2 separate regions of the Homo sapiens genome follow, and region 2 is linked to region 1. Evidence: fine-mapped expression QTL. A gene starts in region 1. The other region holds a variant in brackets. All regions are shown on one strand. Distances are between the middles of the regions.

Evidence for each region. PIP is the estimated chance that this variant, and not a neighbour inherited with it, causes the effect. A credible set is the group of variants that fine-mapping cannot tell apart.
Region 2: its variant is the best candidate, but not a certain one, in a credible set for the expression of EIF4EBP2 in whole blood (TOPMed, PIP 0.58).

Annotation. Positions count from the first base shown.
Region 1 is chr10:70,402,329-70,406,328 of GRCh38, forward strand. EIF4EBP2 (eukaryotic translation initiation factor 4E binding protein 2) reads left to right here and starts at 1,817. Exons shown (of 3, transcript NM_004096.5): 1 at 1,817-2,218. The coding sequence starts at 2,074. RefSeq lists silencers at 1,689-1,878, 1,909-2,118.
Region 2 is chr10:70,355,877-70,360,396 of GRCh38, forward strand. The region is part of intron 2 of LRRC20 (leucine rich repeat containing 20); the gene reads right to left. Among named protein-coding and RNA genes, the nearest start is that of LRRC20, 24 kb to the right of the region's middle. The variant T/C (reference allele first, on the strand shown) is at 1,956.

The DNA.
Region 1 (4,000 bases):
GGATAATTTTTTATTTATTTTTATTTTTGTAGAAATGTGAGAGGAGGGTCTCGCTTTTTTATCCAGGCTGGTCTTGAACTCCTGGCTTCATGCCATCCTCTTACCTGAGCTTCCCAAATTGCTGAGATTATAGGTGTGAGTTACTGTGCCCCTACTGGACTGATGCACTTTATCAACCACACACTGTAAGCTCTACACAAATGTAAACTAGTATCTTCCCCTTTCCTTCCACTAGAAGTGTCTCTGTTGGCATGTCCAAAGTCTCAGAGTCTTTCAAGGTTAAACTCAGCCCTCTGCAACTCTGGCAGCTTCCAGATGGCAGGACAGGCAGGGGACTTTTTTTTCTGGATTCTTGGGGCACTCACCACAAAATCAGTACCATGTAATGCCCTGGCCTGCCCTGGGCTGTTGTAAGTTCTTTTGTCTATGTTCTTGCCAAGCACCTGTTTGACCCTCTGAGCAGTGAAGCAATAGCTGTTTTCCCCTCAACCTCTCTTACCCTTATTTCTCTCATTTGCAAAATGGGAATGATGGTAGCTATGTTGGCCTTACCCATGAGTGTCTTCCCAGTCCCACCTTGGGCATGTTGTGGGCAGAAGTAGTGCTGCCCTAGTGCAGCGGTTCTCAAAGTGTGATCTGGAGAGCCCCTCGGGGATCTGAGACAACCTTCTTTTCTAACTACATACCTGTGTGAGGCTGGGTTTTCTTCATATAGTTGAATCAACACATTACAACAGCTTGAACACAGAAACAGATATGAGAATACAGCTGTTTTCTATTAAGCCAGATATTAAAGCGTTTGCAAAAATATAAAATAATGCCACTGTTCTCACTATTTGTTTTAGATAATTAAAAAATATAATGTCAACATGTAATAGGTTATTATTTTATGAATTAATAAACATTTAAAACATTCTCAGTTTTAATTTGTTTTTTGTTGTTGTTGTTGTTGTTGTTTTTTAGAGACAGGGCCTCACTCTGTTGCCCAGGCCGGAATGCAGTGGCTATTCACAGGTACAATCCCACTAGTGATCAGCAGCGGCTCAGTTTTAATTTCTAATACAATAATTATCAATACATATAATCCACACAAACAAAAGCTCTTGGAAATCCTCAATAATTTTCAAGAATGTAGAGGTACTGAGACCCAAAGTTTGAGAACCCCTCGAGGAAAGAATAGAGTTCCAGATCTAGATTTTTCAGGTACCTCATGGTCTAAGCCCTCTCCTGTGCCTCATTTTAACTCTAATACAATAATACTCATTCTTGTTGCCATGAGTGGCTCTTGGTTTCTTCCTTTTCCTAATGTTTAGATCTTGCTTTATGTGTGTATATAGTGATGGTCTTTGGAAGGATACACAATTAACTGGTACAGCGGTTGAGGGGAGTTCGGAAACTGGGAGAAAGTGGCACCATAAACCTTTCTGCTCTGTTTGATTTTTAAAATACAGTACATCGTGCATGTAGTGCCTGAATTAATAATGAACAATTAAAAGTAAAATTACATTTTTAATGCATAGGAATGCATGAGAAACTCAAGTCTGCTCAAGTAAAGTGGTGTTAACCGACAATGACAAACAATAAGAAGAAAGTTTTCCTTGTCCGCCTTCACCAGGCTCACAAACACTTAGCTCGCGCTCCCTCTGGCTCTTCTCCCGCTCGCTGGGGTTAAGCCACTCTCTTCCTCAGCCCTGCCCCTCGTCCCCGCCCCCTTCAACAACTTCAGCCACGCCCCTCACTGCCTCGCCCCGCCCCGCGGCGACGTCACCTCCGGCCGACCAGCTTCCCCAACTCCCTCTGGCTCCCGCCTTCGCCCGCTTCCGGTCGTCGTCGTCGCCGCTGCTGCCGCTGCTGTTGCTCCTGAGGCTGCTGGCTGAGGCCGGAGGATCGAGCGGCGGCGGCGGCGGCGGCTGAGAGGGCGGCGGCGGGAGCGGAGCGGGACGAGGGAACGGGAGGAAGCGAGCGAGGAGCGCGCAGAGCGCGCTTTTCCGTCCGCCTGAGGAGCCGAAGCAGCCCCGGCCCCGCCGCCGCCGCCTGCCCGCCGGACAAAGCCGAGAGCCCGCGCCCACAGCCATGTCCTCGTCAGCCGGCAGCGGCCACCAGCCCAGCCAGAGCCGCGCCATCCCCACCCGCACCGTGGCCATCAGCGACGCCGCGCAGCTACCTCATGACTATTGCACCACGCCCGGGGGGACGCTCTTCTCCACCACACCGGGAGGTGAGCGCCGGCCAGCCGTCCGCCGCGCCCGGTGTCCCGCCGCGGTCCTCTAACTCCTCGGCGCCTCGGTGCCCGGCCGCTTCGCCCCCGCCCCCAGCTCCACCGAAGCCCCGGGGACGCTGCCCTTGGGCCCGCCCGAGCGTTCGGGACCCTTTACTTCGTGTTCGCTCTTGCCCGCAGCTCGAGTCGGCGCGCGCCCCACTCGGGAATGTGGCTGTCCTGTCGCGAAAAAGAGCTCTTGTTTCCGCTTCGTGGCAGGCTTACGCATTCGACCCAGTTCTCTCTCTCCTCTCTGCCTCCTTCCCGGGCGGATTTGGCTCCACTTGGCCTTGCATTACAGTCTGCATTGCCTGTCGTAGATTGTGCAAATTAATGCTTGATTTTGGAGCTGGCTCCGGGGCTTTTTAAAAAAGAACTTTGGGAGAGGAATTCGGCCCTGGCATCCTGCGATGGCTTGTTTTTGCTGCTTTTAGAACACCGGGAGGAGGCTGGAATGCGGAGTCTGGAAGCCTCGCCCAGCGTTATCCCGCTTTGACAGCATTGTTTACTTTGCTGGACGAGGCCCCACGGGTGAGGGGAGTCCCCAGGCCGGGAGGAGAGCGTGATAAAATAAAGCTCAAGTAATAGCCAAGGGAAAGTAGGTGGGGGTGGTAGGGTGCTGACAGCCTTAAGGTAGGGTGTCTTTCGGCAGCGACGCCTTTGGAAATGGATTGAAGGACCTTTGTCAAGGACACCCCAGTTGGGTGGGGTGGTTGCTTGATCCTGTGGAAGGGGCTAGAGAGAGGCAATCCAGAGAGAGGGTGGTTCCCTGGCATTGCTTTTCAAAGCATGACCAGGAACTGTTTACAAATAAGTAATACTGGGGTAGAGGTGAAGCTTGGTCACGGGAAGAGAGCTCAAAGGTTGTCTGTGCCCTAACTGGGCTGTCCTCCAGAGGGAGGAGCCTGGAAAGCGATTTTGAGGAGCCTTATTGAAGGGAACGGGGCCTCCTTTTTAACTTCAGAACTTTGTCTTCTTTTGGTGCTGGGGTGGCCTCTTGCTAGAGGGTGGGGACTTCGCAGCTCCTGCGGTCTAGAGGATTGCTAGCCTTGTTCCTGTGGGCAGGGCTCAGGAGCTGTACTACAACCAATCCGATGCAGTTAGGCCTGGACCATCCTTAAATCAGTTGCACAATAGCAAGGCCTGTGGAGTAAGGAGACCTTCTTGCCAACACCAAGGGATAAAATCTAGGAGGGAGCTTTACAGAGAAATTCAGCCAGGCCGCTCTGGGGGCTGGGCGGGCTGCCTTGAAAGGCTTTTTAAATGACCCAGGCAGAAGTTCAGTAATATATATGGAGAGCTGGGTTTAAGGAAATGTTAACTTTGCAGAATAGTGGAGTTCTTAGGTGGCTTAACTCATGGAAGAAATCTCCCCCCGATATGATCAGTTCAAGACCAACTCGTGTTTGAGCATGGTACAGGGTCTCACTCTGTCGCCCAGGCTGGAGTACAGTGGCACGACCTCGGCTCACTGCACTCTCTACTTCCTGGGCTCAAGCGATCCTCCCACCTCAGCCTCCTGAGTAGCTGGACCACAGGCACGTGCCACCACGCCTGGCTAATTTTTTTGTATTTTGGTAGAGTCTGGGTTTCTCCATGTTGCCCAGGCTCGTCCTGGGCTCAAGTTATTCGCCCCGTCAGCCTCCCAAAGTGCTGGGATTACAGGCGTGAGCCACTGCACCCGGCCAAGATCTTGCTTTTTAATCCTGAAAAATTTTGGCAGACCAGAATCTGCTCCATATA
Region 2 (4,520 bases), 46 kb before region 1:
TGTGGACACCCCTCTGACAAACGCACACACGAATCCTGCATCTCAGAGGTGCCTTCTCACGTCCTGCTGCAGAAGCCCCTGCCTCTCTAGGAAATAATGTGCTACAGAGAGTTGGCCTCAGAGAAGAAAGCTGAGCATGAGGCCCTCCAGCCAGTGGCTATCATACTCAGTCAGAATAACTTCTAACCACACAAGAGACCTAGAAAGCAATATCTTCTTCTCAGAATCCAAATTGAATCCTTTCTTGGGCCAACTCTTTCTTGCTGTGGGACCTCAGGCAAGTTACTTAACTCCAATCTCAGTTTCTTCTTCAGTAAAGTGAGGACAAGAGCTCTTTCAAAAACCTGTATGCAATCTGGGCATGGTGGCTCACGCCCGTAACCCAAGCACTTTGGGAGGCCAAGGTGGGAGGATCACTTAAGTTCAAGAGTTCAAGACCATCCTGGGCAACACAGTAAAACCCTGGTTCTATAAAAAATACAAAAAGTAGCTGGGTGTGGTAGTGCATGCCTGTAGTCCCAGCTAGCTACTTGGGAGGCTGTGGTGGGAGGATCGCTTGAGCTTGGGAGGCAGAGGTTGCAGTGAGCCAAGATCATGCCACTGCACCCCAGCCTGGGCAACAGAGCCAGACCTTTTGAGACTTTGTCTCAAAAAAATAAAAACAAATAAATAAAGTTTTAAAACCTGTATGTAGTGCTGGGCAGAGTAGCTCACACCTGTAATCCCAGCACTTTGGGAGGCCGAGGCGGGCAGATCACGAGGTTAGGAGTTTGAGACCAGCCTGGCCAATATGGTGAAACCCCGTCTCTACTAAAAATACAAAAATTAGCAGGGTGTGGTGGCAGGTGCCTGTAGTCACAGCTACTCAGGAGGCTGAGGCAGAAGAATTGCTTGAACCCAGGAGGCGGAGGTTGCAGTGAGCCAAGATCGCGCCACTGCACTCCAGCCTGGGCAACAGAATGAGACTCCACCTCAAAACAAAACAAAACAAAAAACAAAGCAAAACAAAAAAAAACACCTGTATATAAATGTTCACAGCAGCATTTTCACAATAGTTGAAAAGTGGAGACAATCCAAATGTCCATCAGCTGATGAACAGATAAAGGACATGTCATATATCCATTCAATGGAATATTATTCAGCCATAAAAAGGAATGAAATCCTGACATGGGCTGCAACATGAATGAACCTTGAAAACATTTTGCTATGTGAAGGAAGCCAGTCACAAAAGGACAAATGTTGCATGATTCCATTTACATAAAATGTCCAGAAGAGGCAATCTATAGAGACAGAAAGTAGACTGGTAATGGCCTGGGGCTGGGCGGAGATCAGGAAATGGGAAAGGACTCCGCATGGTACAGGGTTTCTTTTTTGGGTGATGAAAATGGCTTAGAATTAGACAGCAGTGATGGTTATACAATCTTGTGAATATACAAATAAATACTGCATTGTATATTTTAAAATGTAAACGTTACAGTATTTGAATATACCTCAAAAAGAAATGAGGACAACAGGATCCAACGAACAGGTGGTTCTGAGCATGAAATAAAACGTCTGCAAGGCTCTTAGCACAGTGCCTGGCAGGTAGTTTGTGCTCAGTAAGTAAGAGATGCTGCTATGAGGATGCAAAAGTATTACTTTTATTTGAGAATCTGACAAAGATGTGCTTCAGCTCTGTCATCCCTGGAGGAGAGAAATGACCTCTGGATTGCATTTATTCTCACAAGCCCTGGACGAGGAGACAACCGCATGTGCTATCATGGGCTCTGGGACTTTCCAAAAAAAACCCTCCTTCCTGGCAAGCCAGTAAGGAGAAAAGAAGCCCATATTCAATTAAAATCAAAAGTAAATCCCACACAGAATACAATCAAATGACACACAGTCAACAATTTGAGACATTAAATTATTTTGATTTCACTGATGACTCATCACAAACGTATACATACAAAAGGGAA[T/C]AGAAACAGCAGCCAGGATGACACTAACAGTATGGCCACTAATGGCTCTAAAGGGACCACAGCTGGTCCGAGTGGAGGAGGCCACGTGGCCAAGCCAGACCTTGGAGAGGCTTGGGCAGGCCCTGAGGTCTTCCTGCAAGGAAAGCATCAATCAGTCCCTTTTTGCAGAGAAGGAAACAAAAGCCCAGAGAAGTTAAGAACTTGCTCAAAGCCACACACTAAGTAGGCAAAGGGTAGAGTTTGACATCTTCTTGAGAACATCGCCCTACAGAGAAAGTCCAGAAACCCGGATCTGCTGCTGCCTTTAACCCAGTGTCTTTGGGCAAGTCACTTATGGGGCCTCAACCTCCCTATCTGTGAAACACAGAAATGAACACAGCCTATGTCTCTCCAAATGTGGGATGCACAAAACTACTCTCAAGGTTATCTTCGGGTGTGATGAGATGCCAAACAACGCAATCCACTTGGAGCAGGGCAGAGGGCGAGGGGGCAGCAGATGGAAGCTGCGAGAGCCACACCCGCTGAACCGACACAGCACCCTGGGGATAGAGGGCTGCAGTTACCAACTGACCAGATTTCTACAGCAACTTTCTCCTCCTCGGACAATCTTTCAGGGCTTGATATAGCAAGGAATCCACCCCTGTAAGCAATGGCTTCTCAGAACAGTTGTTTGTCCTCCTGATCTCACAGATGCATGACTGATGGGACCCAGGAAGCAGCAACAAATGTCGCCAACCAGTGCCTTGTGCACCACGTCTGCCCCAGACAGACACCACTGCCTGGCATGGCTGGCCTCAACCACCTGCCACTCCTCAAGCTCACCGACCATGCTGACTGGCTACCGCAGTCTAGAATGCCCCTCCCTCCCCTCTCTGCCCACCAGCCTAGCCCCACCTCCCCAGAAAGGGCACCCACCTCAAACCTCAGGACACTTGTCTTAGCGTGGGACCTGGACTGTTTTCTCCTGGCTGGTAGAGATCTGCAGCCTGCCTCCAGGACCCACAAGAGGTGAGCTTATGTAGGGGCACAGGCAGCCTCTGCGGACCACCCCTCGCACCCAGTACAGCGCTGGGCAAACGCTCTGAACATAGTTACACCCCTCACCATCGGGAAGCTTGGTCTCAGCATCCCACTTTGTAAAATGGGGGTACAAATTCGCTTTTAGGGAATGAAGAAAAGAATGAGCTAATATTTATCTAGGTGTTGAGTTCAAAGCAAGAAACACACTAGTCTGCAGCAAAGTAATTATTCTACTATGGTTTTACTGCAGCCTGAAAGAAACTAGCTCTGTGATCCTGGAATCTGCCTTGACAAAGGCTGTGGCTGTATCTACACAGAAGAATCCCTCTCCCTGCCCTCCAAACCCCAGCCCCGCCCTTCCATTCGAACACCTGAACACCACTTTCCATTACATCACTCTCCCATTCAAGAATCTCCATGCCAGGCCAGGCACAGTCGCTCATGCCTGCAATCCCAGCACTTTGGGAGGCAGAGATGGGAGGATCATTTTAGCCCAGGAGTTCAAGGCCAGCCTGGACAACATAGTGAGACTCCGTCTGTATAAAAAATAAAGTTAACTGGGTGTGGTGGCATGCACCTGTGGGCCCAGCTACTTGGGAGTCTCACTTGAGCCCAGGAGTTTGAGGCTGCAGTGAGCCAAGATCATGCCACCACACCTCAGCCTGGGTAACAGAGTGAGACCTTGTCTCAAAATTATACTCTCCATGCTAGTTTGGAGGTGCTGACCCCACTGTCCAAAGCCTAGCATCCACACAGAAGGATCCAGCTCCCACCTCCCTTTCTAGATATCCCTCTTGCACCTCTTCATCAAAGCTCTTGCCCTCTGGCCAAGCCAGGCTGCTTATTATTCCCTGCAACTCCCTTTATTTTTCCACCTCTACATTTTTGCTGGTACTGTTCCCATTAAGTAGAATGTTCTCCCTTAGCTTCAAAAGTTCTCGTCAACACTGTATTTCAAGGACTTGTTTAAATGCCTCCTCTCCACTAAGCCTCTGTTCATGTCCTCAACTAATGTAATTGCTCCTGCCCTTGAACCCCCGTTGTTCCACTGCATTTTTTTTCTTTTTCTTTTTTTTTTTTTTTGAGGTGGAGTCTCCCTCTGTTGCCCAGGCTGGAGTGCAGTGGCGTGATCTCGGCTCACTGCAACCTCTGCCTCCCAGGTTCAAACAATTCCCTGCCTCAGCCTCCCGAGTAGCTGGGATTACAGGTGCCCACCACCACACCCGGCTAATTTTTGTATTTTTAGTAGAGACGGGGTTTCACCATCTTGGCCAGGCTGGTCTTGAACTCCTGACCTCATGATCCACCCGCCTCAGCCTCCCAAAGTGCTGGGATTACAGGCGTAAGCCACTGCGCCCATCCGCATTTCTTTTATTTTTGTTTTTACTAGAGATGGGGTATTGCTATCTTGCCCATGCTGGTCTCAAATACCTGGCCTCAAGTGATCCCAGTCTGCCTCCCAAAGCATTGGGATTACAGGTGTGAGTCACCACACCTGGTTCCTCATTGCTTTCCTCCTCCTCCTCCTCCTCCCCATCTCCCTCC